Linked DNA regions of Homo sapiens: region 2 is linked to region 1. Evidence: fine-mapped expression QTL. A gene starts in region 1. The other region holds a variant in brackets. All regions are shown on one strand. Distances are from middle to middle. Region 1 holds the start of HIP1R (huntingtin interacting protein 1 related). Region 2 overlaps CCDC62 (coiled-coil domain containing 62).

Region 1 (11,383 bases):
TGGGGTGGAACCGAGCAGAGGATGTCACGGGGCGAGACAGCAGTGCGCATGCCCAGGAACAACGAGCTCAACGCCCATGCCATGCTGCGGGCAAATCACTCCTATACACGTAAATGTTGCCCTTTTCTAAAAGCCACCAGGTGATTCTAACACTTGCATTGTCCGGCACGGTAGCCGCTGGCCGGTGCGGGCTGTGAGTATTGGAAAGGTGGTGAGTCCAGACTGAGATCAGCTGTGAGTGTCCAGTGCATACCTATTTCAAAGATTTAGTAGGAGAAAAAGAATGTAAATTCTCCTATTCATAATTTTTGTGGCAATTACATGTTGAAAGGGCTAGCTTTTGGATATACTGGGTTAAATAAAATATGCTATTACAGTTAATCGCACCTGTTTCTGTTGACTTTTCTAGTAGTTACTAGACAATCTAAAAGTACACACGTGGCTTGCCTCTGGTTCCTCCTGGACAACACTGCTCTACTGTGTGCCGGGGCTGAGAAGCCCTCAGTTGTCAATAAATGTTAATCTTGACAGGATTTTGGTTTCACGGGGGATGCTAAGCATGTATGTCACCAACCTGGAAAATTGGACCTATGAACTGTTTCCACATATTGCTGCCCTAGACAGTCCCTGCCCCACAGGAACCCCTTACACCTGGGTAGTTTCATGTCTACAGTTAATGCTCACCCGCCAGACTTGGCTCACTCAGCAGTGGCCAGAGGCCTTGCAGTGTAGTAAAGGGTTTCTCTCATCCTAACCTGAGAGGAATCTTCTGGGCTTGATCTCCATCCTGTGGGCCTGCAGTGGAAACTGAGGCCCAGTGAAGCAGAAAGGTTCACAGATCAGGAAAAGGCAGGACTCACCATTAGCATTTCCAGTACTCCTAACTGAGTCCTTCTTCATGATATGCTTCAAAGATGCTTTCTTCTCTAGATGTTAAACTTTTCAGCCGAGGAAGGGAAGGGAGAAAGACGGTTGGGCCAAGTATCTGCTGAGGCCCTTCTATGCCCTAGGTGCTCTTTCATGTTTACATACTGGATGTATTAGTTCCTTATGGCTGCCATAACAAATCACACAAACTCGCAGTTCTGGAGGTCGGAAGTCTAAAACAGGTCTCACAGGACTAAAAGCAAAGTGTCAGAAAGGCTGTGTTTCCTCCTGGAGGCTCTAGGGAAGAATCCATTTCCTCGCCTTTTCCAGGCTGTGGAGGATGCCCATACTCCTTGGCTAGTGGCTCCTCCCCAGCAGCAGGCAGTGAGTCTTTCTCACATGGACTCAGTCCGACCTCCTCTCCTGCCTCCCTTGTCCACATTTAAAGACCTTTGTGATTACACTGAGCCCACCTGGTAGCCCAGGAGAATCGCCCCATCTCAAGGACCATCTCAGCTGATGAAAAACTCTAATTCCACCTGCAACGCCTTACTAAGTCATTAACGTAGTCACAGGTTCTAGCTGCCACACGGTCTCTCTCTTACACCTTACAACAGCCCTATACGATAGCTGGAACGATCTGTATGGTTTTTTTTTCAGACAAGGACATAGATTTACAAGTTAAGCAACTTGCCAGGGACACAGGCTAGAGCCTAGGTCTATCTACCTACTAGTGCCTTTATGATACCACACCCTCTTTTTAAATGGTACAGGCAGTGTTCAGGTTCCAAATACAGGCATGCTGTATTTTGTAGTATTCTGTATTCAGAAAACAGCAACAAGACAATAAAAGTTTGTCACCTCCATTTTGAAAAGGATTTTTTTTTTTTTTAACCAAAGGGACTAAAGTCATAGGGAAGAAAAGCATACACTGGTTTTCTGGACATTCCCCTGGGATTATACACACACACCATGCAACAATCACAGGCACCAGCTCCCAGCAGGCACATGATCGCCTCTCTTCACACTCCTGAGCGCTAACCCCACAGATATTTGCAAACAGGGTGTGTCCTGTCAAAAAAGCTCACAGGAAAGCAATTATCTTCCTCCTGACCCAGGAGCCCAGGGGAGGAAAGCGAGGCTGGCAGGCTAGTGAATATTTAAATTCTAAGCCAGCCTAGTGCTCCTGCCACAGCACACAGTGCTGTGGTCAATGCAAGACAAGCAGCGTATTACAAAGGAAGCCAGGTCCCTGGACTGCATGTGCTATTTTCTGTCCCGAAGGAGACATGGAAGTAACAACCTCAGCTCTCCAGGTCCTTTTCCACCACGGGACCTGGCTGGCGGCTCACCTGATTATTTCTGGGAACGATCTAATTAAATATTAACCACGTACAAAACCTCATTCTTACATTCCTCAATAAGTCACTGTGAAGACGAGCAAACCCAGACAATGAACTCAAACTCCAACTTTCCAGAAAATGGGGCCCTAGAATAGGTAAGACCTGTGACATTCACCCATTACAAAGTTATTCATTGTTAGTGGCCCTCTTAGCCTCTGAGAAAAAACCAGAGCAAAACAAAACAAAACAATCCACCTTCGGAGAGGTGCCTGTAATCCCAACATCTCGGGAGGCCGAGGTGAGGCGGGTGGATCGCCTGAGGTCAGGAGTTCGAGACCAGCCTGTCCAACATGGTGAAACACCTTCTCTACTGCAAACACAAAAATTAGCCAGGTGTGGTGGCGCACGCTTGTAGTCCCAGCCACTTGGGAGGCTGAGGCAGGAGAATCACTTGAACCCGGGAGGCGGAGGTTGCAGCGAGCTGAGATCATGCCATTGCACTCCAGCCTGGGCAACGAGAGAGACTCTGTCTTTAAAAAAAAAAAAAAAAAATCCACCTTCTTGTGTATCAAACCAACCACTAAAATGTGTGGTCCTGTATCAGAGATTCTCTCTTTGACACTCAGGAAGGTTGCCCTTGACTTCTTATCATTTAAGAGTAAGATCAATGAAGTTGGTCCTTCACATCCCATCTCCTCCATGTAGCAATCAGACCTCTTTATACGTCCTCAAAGGCACGAGAAAAAACTCAGTGAATAAACAAAGTTTCTGACAACATCCAGATATGTCTGCCAATTCAGGTTTTCTCCCTATGATCTACAAGTTCTTGGCACAATTAATTATGTATTGGTGACTTTAAATTTTTTTAAAATGACGGGCTATCCGGGCTGAACCAGTTGATGGTGATGAAGATCACAAGGCTAAATTGGTAATTTGCAGCCACCTGGGTTCCAGCACTTCGCATTTCTAAAGCCTTGATATCCTCAGGATTTATTATCGCTTTCTGGGTCAATCCCAAGCACAAAGGTTAGAAGGTCTCCCTGCGTTCTCTCTCATTTCAAAACGAAAGCTGTTGTAGAGTGCGTGTGCTAACTAGATGTGAAGGCAACCGCAGAAGTCATAGCTCTCTGCAAGGACAAGTGGGACGGAACTTGCAAATAGCCGCCACAAACGCAAATGTCACCAACCTGCTTTAGACAGGAGTGGGAGGGGTCCTCTGGCTTCCTTTATCTCTAGAGTAAAATTTTTCAGCCATTTCAGTCTTGGTTGACTTATTTTGGCAAATAAACAAGTATGCCCCCCTCCACCGCCCATCCCCCAAGCCTGAGAGCACTTCAAGAGTTTGTAAAATAAAAAGCAACAGGAAACCAGAAACGCAGCAACGTCTGCATCGTGGGTCCCCGGCACAAACACAAGTACAAAACGCACACCCGCGCCCTTATTTCATTTCTAACGCCTTCCCAGGATAGGCATCATCTGGAAGAGTTACAAGCGTGGGAGGCGCAGGAAGGGAGCCCCAGGAAGTTTCTGTCTGTCGGGCGCCGGTATTTAATGAGGGGGTGTGCACCTATTTATACGTGGGCAGCGCTCGGGCAAACAAGTCTGGCGACATACGAGAAGCTTTTCACCCAGCAAATAATAGGAGACTGTGCAGCCCTGGGAAACCGCTCACGAGAGAAGGAAGCTGGGAGTTTAAGGAATTTCCTTTAAGGAAATTGCCCGTGGGGGCATCGGTTTCAGGGGGTAGGAGACGGGGGCAGGAGCCGGCAAGGAGCGGCACGGAAGGTCGGGGACCCCAGTCGGGCCGCGCCGGCCCCGGGAGCACCTGGATCCCCAGCCCCCTCGACCCCCGGCGCGCTGGGCTCGCGCACACCCAACCCCGGCCCCATCTCCGTCCCCCGCCGCCTCAGCTCCGGCGCTCCCGGCCCGCGCACACCCTGACCCCGGCCCCCTCAGCCCCGGCGCCTCTGGGCCCGAGCGCCCGGCGGGAGCGGGGAGCGCGGCTTCCGGTTCACCTGCGCGCCGGTCGGCTCGGGCCGCGGAGGCCGGCGGGGGGCGGCAGCGGAGCTCTCGGAGAGCCCGGGCGGACACAGGCCCTGCCCCCGCGCCGTCCCCCGCCCCTGGCCGGCGCCTCCCGGGCCCCAGCCGTTCGCGCGTGAGGGGTCAGGGACGCCGCTTGCCCGCCCGCCCGCCGCCGCCCGCCGCCCGCCGCCCGCCGCCCGCTCGCCTGGGTCTTGTCGAACTGCTCGCGCTCGGCCTCCAGGCTGTGGCCCGGCCTGCGGCTCAGCACCCGCGCCGGCACGTTCTTGATGCTGTTCATCCTGCCGCCGCCGCCCGCTTTTGTCCGGCTCCGTCCGCGCGACTCACAGCCTCACGGTCCGGCAGCCCCAGCCTAGGCACCGCGAGGCCACCGCGCCGCGCCCGGGCCCGCCCGCCGGGGAGGAGCCCGCCTCGCCCCGCCCCCAACTCCAGGGCACGCCCCTCCCCCGCACACCTCCAAACCCGCCCCCCGCGCCCGCAAACGCCTCGCCCGCCCCCAACTCCAGGGCGCGCCCCTCCACCCGCACACCTCCAACCCCACCCCCCGCGATCTCGGGACACGCGCCTCTCCCCGCACATCCCCAACCCCCCATCCCGCGGCGACCCCGGCACACGCCCCGCCCCCCGCACACCTCCAACCCCCACCTCACTCACAAGGTTGGGGCACAGGCCAAACGCCCCCCCAGCTCCTCCCCACCTCTAATCCCCTCCCTAAACCCGGAGGGGAGGGTAGGGGAAGGGGGAGGGGGAACCCCTCCCTCCTCCTTCCACCCAGGGTAGGGACCCCAGCCAATTCCCTCTCCCCACCCCTCCTCCGAACTCACTAAGTCTTGTCTGCACCAGGGCAAGATCTGGTTAATTGGAGAAAATCTGGCCTCCATGAGTCTGGTCGGTGGCAGCACAGATAGACGCTTTTTTTCCTTTTTGGTCTTAATGTATGTGTCAAAAGGCACACAATGACACTCTCCCCTCTTTGTGCAATTCTGACATAGCTGCAGCTGTTATCCATGCGGGGATGCAGGATGCATTTCCAGAGACGCCGCCGGCTCCGCAACCGGACACCTCGCCAGCTCCAGGGACAATGGGGGCTGAGGCCGGGCGCTGTTAGGCTGGCACAGAAGGCAGGCGGATCTGAACAGCAAAGTACACCGAGGAGATGCCGCCAGGGGTGGCGTGAGGCTTTTTAAAAACATTATTATTGGCTTTCCCTTAAAATTACTGGTCACAAGACTGAAGTAAAAAAATAAATAAAAGCCCAGAGTCCTCTCTAAGCGTAGCTCTCAGATGGGTATTGTGTTTCTGCTGTTTCCCTTTCCTATCGGAATGCAGATGTGGAATCATGCATAAAGGTCCCTTGCTTTTGAAGGGAGAGGCACCGCCTGCCTGTAAGGAGGAAAATGACGCCCACGTAATCCTGACCCTTGTCTCCCTAGTGAGACTGTAACCTGTCTGAGGTCAGAGACCCTTTCCTTTCCTTTCCTTTCCTTTCCTTTCCCTTTCCCTTTCCTTTCCTTCCTCCTTCTTTTCTTTCTTTTCTCTCTTTCTCTCTCTTCTTTCTTTCTCTTTCTTTCTTTCTTTTCTTTTCTTCTCTTTCTTTCTTTTCTTTTTTTTTAACCGAGCTTCACTCTTGTTGCCTAGGCTGGAGTGCAATGGCACAATCTCACCTCACCGCAACCTCCGCCTCCTGGGTTCAAGCAATTCTCCTGCCTCAGCCTCCCAAATAGCTGGAATTACAGGCATGTGCCACCACGCCTGGCTAATTTTGTATTTTTAGTAGAGACAGAGTTTCTCCGTGTTGGTCAGGCTGGTCTCGAACTCCCGACCTCAGGTGATCCGCCCGCCTCGGCCTCCCAAAGTGTTGGGATTACAGGCGTGAGCCACCACACCCCGCCAGGGACCCTTTTCTTTAACTGATTCCTCACCCTCCAGCCCAAGAGCTAGAGCTGACCCCAAAAGATAACATTTGCCAAGACTCTCCTGTCACTGCACCAAAAGGAGAAATTAATCCTGTTTTCTCTAATTCCAATCACTAAAAAGCTTCTTTATCAGAATAACGGTAGAATCACAATAGCTGATATGTACTGAATGCTTATTATTTGGCAGGCACTGGGCTAAACCCTTCATATGTAACTTAGTCAACTTAGTTGATAGCTGTGCTCTAATAAAGACCACAGTAAAGGGGCTTTTTGCGGTACTCCAGCTGTTTCTCACACTCCTTTTTCCACACGGAACAAAAGTGGTTCTCCTGTGACCCTTCACGCATATACAGCATCCCTTTTCAACCAGGCAACAGCCCCTGTAGGTCTAGCACATCTGCCACAGAGACTTCCCATTAGCAACTGGCTTTTTAAATAATCACAGAGCCTATTACTGTGCCGGGCACCAGGCTCAGCATCTGTTAAACAGTATCTCACTTATTCTTCTTTAAAGTTGTTGATGAGGCTCGGCACAGTGGCTCACGCCTGTATTCCGAGCACTTTGGGAGGCTGAGGCAGGTGGATCACTTGAGCTCAGGAGTTCGAAACCATTCTGGGCAACATGGTGAAACCCCATCTCTACCAAAAAATACGAAAAACTTAGCTGGCCGTGATGGCGTGCCTGTAGTCCCAGCTACCCAGGAGGCTGAGGTGGGAGGATCACTTAGGCCTGCAAGGCAGAGGTTGCAGTAAGCTGAGATCATGCCACTGCACTCCAGCCTAGACAACAGAGTGAAACCTTCTCTCAAAATAAATAAATAAAAAATAAAGCATCAACAACTTTATTTTTATTTATTTATTTTTTTTGAGACAGGGTCTGGCTTCGTTACCCAGGCCGGAATGCAGTGGCATAATCATAGCTCACTGCAATTTCTGCCTCCTGGGCTCAAGTGATCCTCCCACCTCAGCCTTCTAAGTAGCTGGAACTGGAGGGATGCACTATCATGCCCAGCTAATTTTTTTTTTTTTTTGAGATGGAGTCTCACTCTGCCACCAGGCTGGAGTGCAGTGGCACGATCTTGGCTCACTGCAACCTCTGCCTCCCGGGTTCAAGCAATTCTCCTGCCTCAGCCTCCCAAGTAGCTGGGACTACAGGCGCCCGCCACCACGCCCAGCTAATTTTTGTATTTTTAGTAGAGACAGAGTTTCACCATGTTGGCCAGGATGGTCTCGATCTCTTGACCTCGTGATCTACCCACCTCGGCTTCCCAAAGTCCTGGGATTACAGGCATGAGCCACTGCGCCTGGCCATGCCCAGCTAATTTTTAAAGTTTTTTTGTAGAGACAGAGTCTTGCTAAGTTGTCCAGGCTGGTCTCAAATTCCCGGGCTCAAGTGAATTCGCCCACCTTGAAAGTACTGGGATTACAGGCCGAAGCCACTGCACCTGGCCTCTTGATGGTATTTTTTACAGACCAACAAACAAGCTCAGGTTCAGAGAGTTTAGCCCAGGTTCACACAACTGGTAAACGCTGCATTCGGGATCCAGACCCAGATGTGCCTGATTTCAAGGCCAGTGCCCGCAACACCCATGCCATTTGGACTACATTTTGTGGTCTATGACTTTCAGTACTATACTACCTCAGGCTTGCTGTTTAGGACCTGAGAGCACTCTCCTAACACATCTCTAAGGGATTGTACTTTATGTGCTTGTAGGTAAGATTTTGAGCTATTAGAGGGCCACCCTGTATTACTCAGTTTTATGTACTCAGTGCCTAGCAGGGCACCTGGCACATAGCAATGTTCAATATGTATGTCAAATGAAGGGCTGAAAGAGTGAGTAAACAAATACCTCATTTGGTATACTTCAACATACAGCTGATCTCACGAAAGAGTATCACTGAGGACATAAGGATACAAACTTCCCCAATCTTTTGTTTGTTTGTTTTTGTTTTTGAGACAGGGTTGCCCTCTGTCACCCAGGCTGGAGTGCAGTGGCATGATCTCAGCTCACAGCAACCTTCGCTTCCTGGGTTCCAGCAATTCTCCTGCCTCAGCCTCCTGAGTAGCTGAGATTACAGGCGTGCGCCACCACAGCCTGGCTAATTTTTGTATTTTTTGTAGAGACAGGGTTTCACCATGTTGGTCAAGCTGGTCTTGAACTCCCAACCTCAGGTGATCCACCTGCCTCGACCTCCCAAAGTGTTGGGATTACAGGCGTGAGCCACTGTGCCTGGCCCAAACTTCCCCACTCTTAATTTTTCTGGTTCATCTCTCTAACATCTTCAGGCAGGAGGCCTGGTCTACTATTGTCCCTGTCACTGACTGGCTTTTTTTTTGGCGGGGGGGATACGGGGTCTTGCTTGCTCTGTTACCCCTGCTGGAGTGCAGTGGCTGGATTATGGCTCATTGCAGCCTCAACCTCCTGGGCTCAAATGATCCTCCCACCTCAGCCTCCAGAATAGCTGGGACCACAGGTGTGCACCACCATGCCTGGCTAATTTTTAAATTTTTTGTAGAGACGGGGGTCTCACCACGTTGCCCAGACTGGTCTTGAACTCCTGGACTCAAGCAATCCTCCCACCTTAGCCTCCCAAAGTGCTGGCATTACAGGCAGGAGCCACTGCTCCCGGCCTGAGATTCTTCATGCCATCAGAATCAGGGTTCTGTTTTGGTGTATCTCGAGGGCTGTTGAATTCCTGCTCACCCCTATTACAAAAGCAAAGCAATTGGAATACAAATAAGACCTCGTTTTAAGGAAAATCCAAGATGCACAGGAGAGTTTACATCATCTGGCCCACTAAAACATGGTATGCTACCACACCCACACTGACTCATCGACTCGTATGCATGATCTGGCCCCAGCCTCTGTCCCTGGCTTCATCTTGCACCATCCTGGCCCATCAGGTCCCAGATGCGTCATGTTCCCTCCCACCTCAGAGCCTTTGCACATGCTGTTCCTACTGCCTGGAATTCTCTTCTGCTTCCCGTTCGCCCTACTTAGCATCCACTTGTCTTTAACTCTTGGCTCAGATGTCACTTCTTTAAGGAAGCATTCTCTTAACACTCCACCCTTCACCTGAGTCCCTATTATAAGCTGTCATCATATCTCAAAGCTTTCTTTTGTAGCACTAACCAGTCTCTTGTGAACTATGTATGGGATTCTTAGATTAGTGTGTTTCTACGACTAGATTGTCTGCTTTGCTCATTGTTGTGTCTCCAGTGGCCAGCAAAGCACCTACTGTGTGCTCAAAATTCTTTGATTTTTTGTTGGGTTTCTTTTTGTTGTTGTTGTGGTTGGGTTTCTTAAGCATGCATCTGGCTGAGAACCCAGACATCATCCTTTAAAGAACTGATTCATGTACACTTTTCATTCAATCAACTTCTCTCAAAGACCATTCTGGGTGTTTTTTGTTTGTTTGTTTGTTTGTTTGAGACAGAGTCTGGCTCTGTTGCCCAGGCTGGAGGCATGGCTCAATCTCAGCACACTGCAACCTCTGCCTCCCAGGTTGAAGTGATTCTTGTGCCTCAGCCTCCTGAGTAGCTGGGATTACAGGCACCCACCACCACGCCCAGCTAATTTTTGTATTTTTAGTAGAGAGGTGTTTCGCCATGTTGGCCAGGCTGGTCTCGAACTCCTGATCTCAAATGATGTGCGAGCTTTGGCCTCTCTAAGTGCTGGGATTACACGCGTGGGCCACTGCACCTGGCCCCATTCTGGTTTTTAAACCTCCTTGTCAGCTGCAGTCTTGATGAATGTGTCTGGTTTCTTATTTTGATCCTGTTCACTCTGTTCTCTATCACACTGGAGGTTGCTAAGATTATTCTGTTGAAGGCCTAGAATAATGAACTTTCCTGCAATGTGTCCTAACAAAATCATCATCAAATGGCTCAAGAGAAACAAAAGTACAACACTGCAAACCCACCACCCCAGCTACAGGTGTCAAACCACACAAAGCCACAGGAGAAAACTCCAGGATCAGTTTGCCAGACCATAACAAGGATTCAGTCTTCAGTCTCCTTCCTGGAAGGTATGGAGCCAACCTTATCCCACACAGCCAAGAAGTTCTAGACGCATTCTCTTGGCACTTTTGGGGTAAAGCTGCTTTTAGTGTTTATGTTTTATCTTAATTCAGAACTTTTTTTCTTTGGGGGTATTTCTATTTCTGTTTTTAAATATCTGTTGGCCGGGCGCGGGGGCTCACACCTGTAACCCCAGCACTTTGGGAGGCTGAGGTGGGCGGATCACCTGAGGTCAGGAGTTCGAGACCAGCCTGGCCAACATGGTGAAACCCCGTCTCTACTAAAAATACAAAAATTAGCCTGGCATGGTGGCAGGTGCCTGTAATCCCAGCTATTCGGGAGGCAGAAGAATCTCTTGAATCTGGGAGATGGAGGTTGCAGTGAGCTGACATCGTGCCACCGCACTTCAGCCTGGGTGACAGAGTGAGACTCCATCTAAAGAAAAAAAAATTAGGCATGGTGGCACGTGCCTGGAGTCCTCGCTAATTGGGAGGCTGAAGCAGGAGAATCACTTGAGCCCAAGAGTTTGAGGCTACAGTGAGCTATGATGATACCACTGCCCTCCAGGCTGGGTGACAGAGTGAGACCCTGTCACTAAAAATAAAATTAAAAAAAAAATCCATTCACAGATTCTAAAAATACCCTTATATCAGTCTTTTCCAATGCTGAGATTACTTCTGGCAGGCAGATTGTAGTATAATTCATTTGCCTCCTCTTCAGATGTGTTGATCTTAAGAATGTTGCTGATAAGACATAAATGCTAAAATCTAGTTTTATCTTGTAACTATTTCAAATACTCTATGAGACTGCCTCTGTGCATCCATTAAAGTATAGAAAAAAAAAGGAGACTGCCTCTCTAACAGAAATTGCTCAAAGCTTAGGTCAGGGGTATCTGCACTCCACGTTCACTGCAGCACTGCTCACAACAGCCAAGATGTGGAAGCAACCTAAATGCCCATCAACAGATGAGTGGATAAAGAAATGTGGTGGCTCACGCCTGTAATCCCAGCACTTTGGGAGGCTGAGTTGGGAGGATCACATTAGGCCAGGAGTTCAACACCAGCCTGGCCAACATGACGAAACCCCGTCTCTACTAAAAAAACAAAAAGTTAGCCAGGAGTGGTGGTGGGCACCTGTAATCCTAGCTTCTCAGGAGACTGAGGCAGGAGAATTGCTTGAACTCGGGAGGTGGAGGT
Region 2 (11,383 bases), 23 kb after region 1:
AGGATCAAGTGATCCTCCTACCTCAGCCTCCTGAGTTGCTGGAACTACTGGTGCATGGCAGTGTGTCCAGCTAATTAAAAAAAATTTTTTATTTTGTAGAGGTGGGGTTTTTCAATGTTGCCCAGAGTGGTCTCAAACTCCTTGGCTCAAGTGATCCATCTGCTTTGGCCTCCCAAAGTGCTGGGATTACAGGCATTAGCCACCATGGCTGGCCTATATCTCAATTAAAAAAATGTATTTTAAAGAAATAGCTGCCAAAGAATGACTAGAAAAGTCATAAAGGTTCTCCCCAGACACAGGGGAAGAAGCAGCCTCACTGCATACATTTAAAGGGATAGCTAAGCACCAAAATAGTTTTGTCATTAAAAACCTTCCTCTGCCCCAATATAAATGCAACGCTTCACTAATGCCTCAGAGACAGCTTGTGAAGAAGAAATCTTCCTAGGAAACACCAGAGTCCATCACGGTTTCCACTTTGAAAAGTTTATATGGCACACATGGTATACTTTGAAAAATTTCTAGTTTTGGATCCTGTTCTGCTTTAAGGTAATCTCTGCAACTACCTGTTTAGGCTCATGGCAGTGAGCATCTTGATTCTAAAATGATTAATGTTCTAGTTTTGGATCTATTCGCGGCACATAGAAACTGCTCCAGGGAACTCTGAATCTAACAAAATACCAATCTGAAGGACTAAGCAAGAATTGCCATCAGAGAGCATTTCGTGAAATAAGGCAAAGATGTTTGCTCCCCTGCTTCTATTCAACACTCATCTGGAGGTCCTAGCCAGAGCAGTAAGGGAAGAAAATGAAATAAGGCATAAATATTGGAAAAAGGAATAAAACTGTCTCTATTCATGAATGACATGATTGTGTAGAAAATCCTAAGGAATCTACAAAAAAACTACTAGAATAGGCTGGGTGTGGTGGCTCACGTCTGTAATCCCAGCATTTTGGGAGGCTGAGGCGGGCGGATCACAAGGTCAGGAGATGGAGACCATCCTGGCTAACACGGTGAAAGCCCGTCTCTACCAAAAAATGCAAAAAATTAGCCGGGTGTGGTGGCGGGCGCCTGTAGTCCCAGCTACTCGGGAGGCTGAGGCAGGAGAATGGCGTGAACCCGGGAGGCGGAGCTTGCAGTGAGCCGAGATCGCGCCACTGGCACCAAGGCCTGGGCGACAGAGCGAGACTCCGTCTCAAAAAAGAAAAAAAAAAACCTGTTAAGTTGGAAGTAATCAAAATTTTAAATTTCGCTTTTTAAAAGACACTGTTAAGAAAAGCCAGGCCAGGCACAGCGGCTCACGCCTATAATCCCAGCACTTTGGGAGGCTGAGGCAGGAGGATTGCTTGAACCCAAGAGTTTGAGACCAGCCTGGGCAACATTGTGGGACCCTGTTTCTACAAAAAATAAAAACATCAGCTGGGTGTGGTTTCGTGTACGTGTAATCCCAGCTACTCAGGAGGCTGAGGTGGGAAGATCACTTGAGCCTGGGAGTTGGAGGTTCAAGTTGGCCCTGCATTCCAGCCTGGGTGACAGAGCAAGACTGTCTCTAAAAAACAAATAAATAAGCTGAGCATGGTGGCTCATGCTGATAGTCCCAACACTTTGGGAGGCTGAGGCAGGAGGATTACTTGAGGCCGGGAGTTCAAGCAGCCTGGCAAACAGAGTGGGCATGGCAGTGCGTGCCTGTGGTCCCAGCTACTTGGGAGACTGAGGTGGGAGGATTGCTTGAGCCCAGGAATTTGAGGCTGCAGTGAGCTGTGATCACGCCTGCGAATAGCTACTGCACTCCAGCCTGGGCAACAGAGGAAGATGCTGTCTCAAAAATAAATAAATACACAAAATTAAAATTAGGCCGGGCAGGGTGGCTCATGCTTGTAATCCCAACACTTTGGGAGGCCAAGGCAGGTGGATCACTTGAGGTCAGGAGTTCGAGACCAGCCTGGTCAACATGGTGAAACCCCGTCTCTAATAAAAATGCAAAAATTAGTGAGGCATGGTGGCAGGTGCCTGTAATCTCAGCTACTTGGGAGGCTGAAACAGGAGAATTGCTTGAACCCAGGAGGCAGAGAATTGCAGTGAGCTGAGATCGTGCCATTGCACCCCAGCCTGGGCAACAAGAGCAAAACTCAGTCTCAAAAAAAAAAAAAAAAAAATTAAAAGTCCATATCTGTTAGAGAGACATCATGATCATGAAATATTTATGAGTGACATGATATGATGCTGAGCTAAAATGCTTCCAAAGAAAACGTGTATGGATGGGGTAAGATAAAATCGATGGTGGTCAAAGGTGAGTGACCGTGCCATTCTTTCCACTTCAGTGCATATTTGAAATTTTCTTTCTTTCTTTCTCTCTCTCTTTTTTTTTTTTTTTTTTTTTTGAGGTGGAGCTTTGCTCATTGCCAAGGCTGGAGTGCAATGGCACAATCTCGGCTTACCATAACCTCCACCTCCGGGGTTCAAGCAATTCTCCTGTCTCAGCCTCCCGAGTAGCTGGGATTACAGGCATGTGCCACTATGTCCGGCTAATTTTGTATTTTTAGTAGAGACGGGGTTTCTCCATGTTAGTCAGGCTGGTCTTGAACTCCTGACCTCAGGTAATCCACCCGCCTCGGCCTCCCAAAGTGCTGGGATTACAGGCATGAGCCACCACGCCCGGCCTTGAAACTTTCTATAATAAAATTTGGTTTTTTAAAACATTTCCAGCTGGCCGTGGTGGCTCACGCCTGTAATCCTAGCACTTTGGGAGGCCAAGGTGGGTGGATCACTGGAGATCAGGAGTTTGAGACCAGCCTGGCCAACATGGTGAAACCCTGTCTCTACTAAAAATATAAAAATTAGCCGGGCATGGTAGAGTAGGCCTTTAGTCCCAGTTACTTGGGAGGCTGAGGCAGGAGAATCACTTGAACCCGGGAGGTGGAGGTTGCAATGAGCTGAGATCGTGCCACTGCACCTCAGCCTGGGCGACAAGAGCAAAACTCTGTACCCGCCCCCTCCAAGAAAAAAGTCCCCAAGAATTTATCTTCATATGCCCCAGATCATTAGAAAGAGGAAGTTTGGGTCCAGTGACATCTAAGTGTAACTTTTTCCTCCTTAAAACAAGCATGTTCCCTTTCCTCCCTAGAGACACAGAAACTCTCCCTCTAACAGAAAGGCCGCCCTGCCGGTGATATTTGCACACTGGTGTTCAGTGGTGTGTTTGGATGTGACAAATATAGTCAAGAGAAAATGAAACGCATACATTTGTGGCACTGCCAGTGAGATTCTCATGGCTGATGGGCAGCAGTGTGCTCAGCTCCAGGTCCGTCACCATCTGACGAGATTCCGCCAGCAAACGCTGGAGCTTGCTCGTGGGCGAGAAATCATCCTGGGAGGGTAACACAATTGAAGCCTACAGGAAATTAAGAGGCACCTTTAAATGCTTAGGTTTACAAACACAAATGCTAACTACCTAGGAATATTGTTTTCTTTTTTCTTTCTCTTGCTCTGACGCCCAGGCTGAAGTGCAGTGGCACAATCACAGCTGATTGCCTCAAGCTCCTGGGCTCGAGTGATCCTCCTGCCTCAGCCTCCTGAAAAGCTGGGACCATAGGTGTGTGCAACCACACCGAGCAATTTTTTTTTTGGTAGAGGTGGGATCTCACTATGTTGCCCAGGCTGGTCTTGAACTCCTGGCCTCAAGTTACCCTCCTGCCTCGGCCTCCCAAAGTGCTGGGGTTATAGGCGTGAGCCACTACACCCGATCACCTGTGAATATTTCTTTGTCTTTAGGTGTTACAAAGCAAAGCTGGACATCAAATAGTAGAATAAGAATAACTAAATTCATTCCTTTTCTTTCTTTCTTTCTTTCTTTCTTTCTTTCTTTCTTTCTTTCTTTCTTTCTCTCTCTCTCTCTCTCTCTCTCCCTCCCTCTCTCTCTCTTTCTTTTTTTTTTTTTTTGAGACGGAGTCTCGCTCTGTCACCCAGGCTGGAGTGCAGTGGCATCATCTCGGCTCACTTCAAGCTCCACCCACCTCAGCCTCCCAAGTAGCTGGGACTACAGGCACCCACCACCATGCCTGGCTAATTTTTTTTTGTATTTTTTAGTAGAGACGGGGTTTCACCACGTTAGCCAGAATGGTCTCAATCTCCTGACCTCGTGATCTGCCTGCCTCAGCCTCCCAAAGTGCTGGGATTACAAGTGTGAGCCACCGCACCCGGCCTCTTTTTTTTTTTTTTGAGACGGAGTTTTGCTCTTGTTGCCTAGGCTGGAGTGCAATAGTGTAACCTCAGCTCACTGCAACCTCCACCTCCCGGGTTCAAGTGATTCTCCTGCCTCAGCCTCCCGAGTAGATGCGGCTACAGTTGCCCGCCACCACACCTGGCTAATTTTGTATTTTTAGTAGAGACAGGGTTTCACCATGTTGGCCAGGCTGGTCTTGAACTTCTGACCTCCAGTGATCCATCCGCCTCGAACTCCCACAGTGCTAGGATTACAGGCGTGAGCCACTGCACCCAGCCCCCTTTATTTCTTAGAACCTACTCAGTTAAATAATTTGACTTAAACAGAACTTACTACAGCTAATGAAGTAACACCCATGCGATAAAAGAATCCTAGGCATTGGTTAACTCTCCTCAACCAACTTGTCAATGCTGTATTTAGCATGTCAAAATACTTGCAAAATAGGACAACATTAAAGGCTTATAAGCCTTGAAAAATATGTGGGTATGTGCCTTCGTTTATTCCTATTAAATTTCAACTTTGGGATGTGAAGTTTGGCATGAAAATTAGTCACTGCCAATTGCTCTTAAAGGGGCCTAGACTGAATTTTTTTTTTTTTTTTTTTTTTTTTTTTTTTTGCAGATGGAGTCTCACTCTGTTGCCAGGCTGGAGTGCAGTGGCGTGATCTCAGCTCACTGCAACCTCCAACTCC[C/T]GGGTTCAAGCAATTCTCCTGCCTTTCAGCCTCCCGAGTAGCTGGGACTACAGGCATGTGCCACCACGCCCAGCTAATTTTTGTATTTTTCGTAGAGACGGGGTTTCACCATGTTGGTCAGGATGGTCTCGATCTCCTGACCTTAGGTGATCCCCCTTCCTTAGCCTCCAAAAGTGCTGCGAGTACAGGCATGAGCCACCACCTGATTTTTTTTTTTTTTTAAGAAAACTTAATTTCAGCCGGGCACGGTGGCTCACGCCTGTAATCCCAGCACTTTGGGAGGCTGAGGCGAGCAGATCACCTGAGGTTGGGAGTTTGAGACCAGCCTGACCAACATGGAGAAACCCCGTCTCTACTAAAAATACAAAATTAGCCGGGCGTGGTGGCACATGCCTGTAATCCCAGCTACTAGGGAGGCTGAGGCAGGAGAATCGCTTGAACCTGGGAGGCGGAGGTTGCGGTGAGCCGAGATCGTGCCATTGCACTCCAGCCTGGGCAACAAGAGTGAAACTCCGTCTGAAAAAAAAAAAAAAAAAAGGAAACTTAATTTCTTTTTATTTATTTATTTATTTTTTATTATTATACTTTAGGTTCTAGGGTACATGTGCATAACGTGCAGGTTTGTTACATATGTATACATGTGCCATGTTGGTGTGCTGCACCCATTAACTCATCATTTACATTAGGTATATCTCTTAATGCTATCCCTCCCCCCTCCCCCCACCCCACAACAGGCCCCAGTGTGTGATGTCCCCCTTCCTGTGTCCAAGTGTTCTCATTGTTCAATTCCCACCTATGAGTGAGAACATGCAGTGTTTGGTTTTTTGTCCTTGTGATAGTTTGCTGAGAATGATGGTTTCCAGCTTCATCCATGTCCCTACAAAGGACACGAACTCATCATTTTTTATGGCTGCATAGTATTCCATGGTGTATATGTGCCACATTTTCTTAATCCAGTCTATCATTTTTGGACATTTGGGTTGGTTCCAGGTCTTTGCTATTGTGAATAGTGCCACAATAAACATACGTGTGCACGTGTCTTTATAGCAGCATGATTTATAATCCTTTGGGTATATACCCAGTAATGGGATGGCTGGGTCAAATGGTATTTCTAGTTCTAGATCCCTGAGTAATCGCCACACTGTCTTCCACAATGGTTGAACTGGTTTACAGTCCCACCAACAGTGTAAAAGTGTTTCTATTTCTCCACATCCTCTCCAGCACCTGCTGTTTCCTGACTTTTTAATGATCGCCATTCTAACTGGTGTGAGATGGTATCTCATTGTGGTTTTGATTTGCATTTCTCTGATGACCAGTGATGATGAGCATTTTTTCATGTGTCTGTTGGCTGCATAAATGTCTTCTTTTGAGAAGTGTCTATTCATATCCTTCGCCCATTTGTTGATGGGGTTGTTTGTTTTTTTCTTGTAAATTTGTTGGAGTTCATTGTAGATTCTGGATATTAGCCTTTTGTCAGATGAATAGATTGCAAAAATTTTCTCCCATTCTGTAGGTTGCCTGTTCACTCTGATGGTAGTTTCTTTTGCTGTGCAGAAGCTCTTTAGTTTAATTAGAACCCATTTGCCGATTTTGGCTTTTGTTGCCATTGCTTTTGGTGTTTTAGACATGAAGTCCTTGCCCATGCCTATGTCCTGAATGGTATTGCCTAGGTTTTCTTCTAGGGTTTTTATGGTTTTAGGTCTAACATTTAAGTCTTTAATCCATCTTGAATTAATTTTTATATAAGGTGTAAGGAAGGGATCCAGTTTCAGCTTTCAGCATATGGCTAGCCAGTTTTCCCAGCACCATTTGTTAAATAGGGAATCCTTTCCCCATTTCTTGTTTTTGTCAGGTTTGTCAAAGATCAGATAGTTGTAGATGTGTGGTATTATTTCTGAGGGCTCTGTTCTGTTCCATTGGTCTATATCTCTGTTTTGGTACCAGTACCATGCTGTTTTGGTTACTGTAGCCTTGTAGTATAGTTTGAAGTCAGGTAGCGTGATGCCTCTAGCTTTGTTCTTTTGGCTTAGGATTGACTTGACAATGCGAGCTCTTTTTTGGTTCTATATGAACTTTAAAGTATTTTTTTCCAATTCTGTGAAGAAAGTCATTGGCACCTCGCCATAGCCAGATGGTGTTTCACCATGTTGACCAGGCTGGTCTTGAACTTCTGACCTCAGGTGATCCACCCGCCTCAGCCTCCCAAAGTGCTGGGATTACAGGCATGAGCCACCACGCCCAGCCTATTATTATTTTTTAAGACAGGGTCTGGCTCTGTCGCCCAGGCTGAAGTGCAATGGCACAATCTCAGCTTGCTGCAGCCTCCGCCTCCCGGGCTCAAGTGATTCTTCCACGTCAACCTCTTGAGTGGCTGGGACCACAGGCACGAGCTACAACACCTGGCTAATTTTTGTATTTTTAGTAGAGATGGGGTTTCACCATGTTGGCCAGGCTGGTCTTCAACTCCTGACCTCAGGTGATCTGCCCACCTCAGCCTCCCAAAGTGCTGGGATTACAGGCATGAGCCACCACGCCCGGCCTGATGGCCTGATAAGTGTTTTGTTCGCATAGTGCAGAGAGGAGGTAAATCTGGAGAAGTAATTAAAGAAGGGATATTCTACACAGACATAAAGAATAGCGTCTCTTTGGGATTGAATAACTGGCTAGAACTTCTCTATCAGTTGAAATCGAAGCTATAAATAGATGGTGGTTTAGCGTGTGAAAAGGTGCACAACATTGTTAGTCATTAGGGGAATGAAAGTTAAAACCACACTGAGATACCTCTTCATACCTATTAGAATGTCTGGAATTTAAAAATTGACCATTGCAAGTATTGACTGGAATCTGGAGCAGCTGGGACCGGAGCATCAGCACCACACTGATGGTGGGAATGTAACTGGTATAACCACTTTGGAAAACATCTTGCAGTTCCTTAAAATGTTAAATATACCCCAGCACTTTGGGAGGCTGAGGCAGGAGGATTGCTTGAGGTAAGGAGTTTGAGACCACCCTGGGCAACATAACAAGACCACATCTCCACAACAAATGTAAAAATGAGCTGGGCATAATGGTTCATGCCTACAGTCCCAGCTAATTGGGAGGCTGCAGTGGGAGGATTACTTGAGCCCAGGAGTTTGAGATTGCAGTAAGCCAGGATGGCATCACTGCACTCCAGCTTGGGCGACAGAGTGAGACCCTGTCTCTAAAAAAAGAAAAAAAAAGGTTAAATATACACCTACCATATGAGCTAGCTAGCATTCCATTCCTAGATAAACGAAAAAAAAATGTGTCTATACAAAGACTTATGATACATGAATATGCAAGCAGCTTTATTTGTATTATCTAGCACACCAGAAACAACCCAAATGTCCACTGACAAATGAATGGCTAAATCACTGTGGTAATAGGTTGGTGCAAAAGTAATTGCGGTTTTTGCCATTACTTTTTTTTTGAGATTGAATCTCGCTCTGTCACCCAGGCTGGAGTCCAGTAGCACGATCTTGGTTCACTGCAACCCCTGCCTCCCGGGTTTAAGCAATTCTTCTGCCTCAGCATCCTGAGTAGCTGGGATTACAGGCACACACCAGCACACCAGGCTCATTTTTGTATTTTTAGTAGACAGGGGATTTCACCATGCTGGCCAGGCTGGTCTCGAACGCCTGACCTCAAGTGATCCGCCTGCCTCGGCCTCCCAAAGTGTTGGGATTACTTTTAATGGCCTACCATTACTTTTAATGACAAAGACCATACTTACTTTTGCATCAACCTAATATATCCACACAATAGGATACTTGTCAGCAACAAAAAGGAATTATTTATATACACAGTCACATAAGTTAATCTCAAAATAATTACACTGAGTGAAAGAAACAAGAGGGACACAAAAGTTTGAATGCATTTATATAAAATTCTAGAAAAGGCAAACTAATCTGGGTTACAGAAGACAGATTAGTGAGTGATTGTCTGGGAATAGGGAGGGACGCACAGGGCAGAGGAAGAATTCCAAAGGGGTTTGGGTGTAATGAATGTGTCACTATTAGTCTGTCACATACAGACTAATGTGTGGTAAATGGGATTTTATTATACAAGAAAATGTCTGGCCAGGTACAGTGCCTTGTGCCTGTAATCCCATTAGTGGGATGAAGATTTCAATTTGCCACCCTGGTATCTTGGTAAATCATAGATGTCAGATGTTTACCTTTTTTTTTTTTTTTTTTTGAGACAGAGTCTCACTCTGTTGCCAGGCTGGAGTGCAATGGTGCAATCTCGGCTCACTGCAAACTCTGCCTCCTGGTTTCAAGCGATTCTCCCGCCTCAGCCTCCCAAGTAGCTGAGATTACAGGCACCCGCCACTACACCTGGCTAATTTTTTTATTTTAGTAGAGATGGGGTTTCACCATGTTGGTCAGGCTGGTCTCGAACTCCTGACCTCAGGTTATCTGCCCACCCCGGCCTTCCAAAGTGCTGGGATTACAGGCGTGAGCCACTGCGCCTGGCGATGTTTTCCTCTTTTATGTTTTTAAAATTTTATTGAAACAAAAAATAGAGGCAGGGTCTTGCTATGTTGCCCATGCTGATCCTGAATTCCTGGGCTTAAGCAATTCTTCCACTTTGGCCCCCAAGAGTGTTGGAATTACAGGCACGAGGCACTGTACCTTGCCACACATTTTCTCATATAATGAAATCCCATTTACCACACATTAGTCTGTATGCATGTCTCTGCAGATAGAGAAATCTGTAAGCAAGCCCACCAACGTGTCACCTGGGTCTCTCTAGACACTGCCAGGGGTTGTGTATTTGGAGGAAGGGGCAGCTGAGACCAAGCAGTTAGGTGATATCTATATTTCTGTATTGTTCTTGTGGTTTGTTTTTCTTTTTCTTTTTTCTTTCTTTTTTTTTTTACAACCAACATATATCAAGTTGCCAAAAAAAAAAAAAATACAATTTTTCTCGAAAGAAAAAAATAGTCCCAGCACGGTGATTCACACTTATAATCCCAGCACACTTTGGGAGGCCAAGGCAAGAAGATCACTTGAGCCCAAGTGTTCAAGACCAGACTGGGCAACAAATTGAGACCCTGTCTCTACAAAAAAATGAGAAAATTAGCTGGGCGTGGTGGCATGTGCCTGTAGTTGCAGCTACTTGGAAGGCTGAGGCAGGAGGATCACTTGAGCCCAGTAGGTTGAGGCTGCAGTGAGCCACGATTGCACCACTGCACTACAGCCTGGGTGACTGAGTATCCTGTCTCAAAGAAACAGAACAAAACACAAAATAATAAAATAAATAAAAGGATTGCCTTAAAAGCATCTTAAAATCCTAGAATTAAAAAAAAAAAAAAAAAAACGGAGGAATAGCCAAAATAAGCAAGCTAACAGTGGTTGCTAGAGAAGCATTAAAAGCTGGTGAGAGGCCTGGCTTGAGTAAGCTGGGGATGTCTAAGCAAAATACGAACCTTTTCATTGAATGCTGGTGCATCTTTGTAGATTAACAAACTCGTAGGTGAGTTCTTTTTATTGGAAGAGGACTCCGTCTCATCTTCTCTCAAGGCAGATTTTGAAGAACCCAAAGAGTGGGAATCTTGGATGGCAATTAGCTCACTAAGAATAAGAAAACCCAACAAAAACAAATATCTTAAAACAATATCATACATAGATCACTCTTATACTCAAAAGTATCTTAAAAGGACAAATAAGTGTTTTTGTTATTGAAGCAGGTCAAGTTTGAGTAGAACATTATAGATTGGAATAGAATATTATAAGTTAATGCATACCTTTTGCAAATAAGAATTAAAATAAGGCTGGGCATGGTAGCTCATGCCTATAATCCCAGCACTTTGGGAGGCTGATCTGGGTGGATCACGAGGTCAGGAGATCAGGACTGTCCTGGCCAACATGGTGAAACCCCATCTCTACTAAAAACACAAAAATTAGCTGGATGTGGCCGGGAGCGGTGGCTCACACCTGTAATCCCAGCACTTTGGGAGGCAGAGGCAGGCGGATCAGGAGGTCAGGAAATCGAGACCATCCTAACACGGTGAAACCCCGTCTCTACTAAAAATACAAAAAATTAGCTAGGTGTGGTGGCGGGTGCCTGTAGTCCCAGCTACTCGGAAGGCTGAGGCAGGAGAATGGCGTGAACCCGGGAGGCAGAGCTTGCAGGGAGCTGAGATCGCGCCACTGCACTCCAGCCTGGGCGACAGAGCAAGACTCCGCCTCAAAAAAAAAAAAAAAAAAAAAAAGAGCTGGGTGTGGTGGCATGTGCCTGTAATCCCAGCTACTCAGGAGGCTGAGGCAGGAGAATTGCTTGAACCCAGGAGGCGGAGGTTGCGGAGAGCCAAGATCGCACCACTGCATTCCAGCCTGGTGACAGAGAGACACTCTGTCTCAAAAAAAAAAAAAAAAAAAGAATTAAGACAAAATTATTAGGTAAAGGTAACTATAGAACAAAGAATGTTCCCCCTAAAAATACAATGA

What was found. PIP is the estimated chance that this variant, and not a neighbour inherited with it, causes the effect.
Region 2: its variant is the best candidate, but not a certain one, in a credible set for the expression of HIP1R in caudate (GTEx, PIP 0.68).

Annotation. Positions count from the first base shown.
Region 1 is chr12:122,828,698-122,840,080 of GRCh38, reverse strand. It overlaps HIP1R (huntingtin interacting protein 1 related), which reads right to left and starts at 4,624. Exons shown (of 32, transcript NM_003959.3): 1 at 4,438-4,624. The coding sequence starts at 4,530. It overlaps LOC124903040 (a long non-coding RNA gene), which reads left to right and starts at 4,848. Exons shown (of 2, transcript XR_007063501.1): 1 at 4,848-4,907; 2 at 5,243-5,526. RefSeq lists silencers at 4,113-4,312, 4,483-4,722, 10,193-10,393 and an enhancer at 4,973-5,022.
Region 2 is chr12:122,805,275-122,816,657 of GRCh38, reverse strand. CCDC62 (coiled-coil domain containing 62) reads right to left here. Exons shown (of 13, transcript NM_201435.5): 10 at 10,363-10,507; 11 at 3,239-3,388. Among named protein-coding and RNA genes, the nearest start is that of HIP1R, 24 kb to the left of the region's middle. RefSeq lists an enhancer at 2,981-3,060 and a silencer at 4,246-4,421. The variant C/T (reference allele first, on the strand shown) is at 4,911.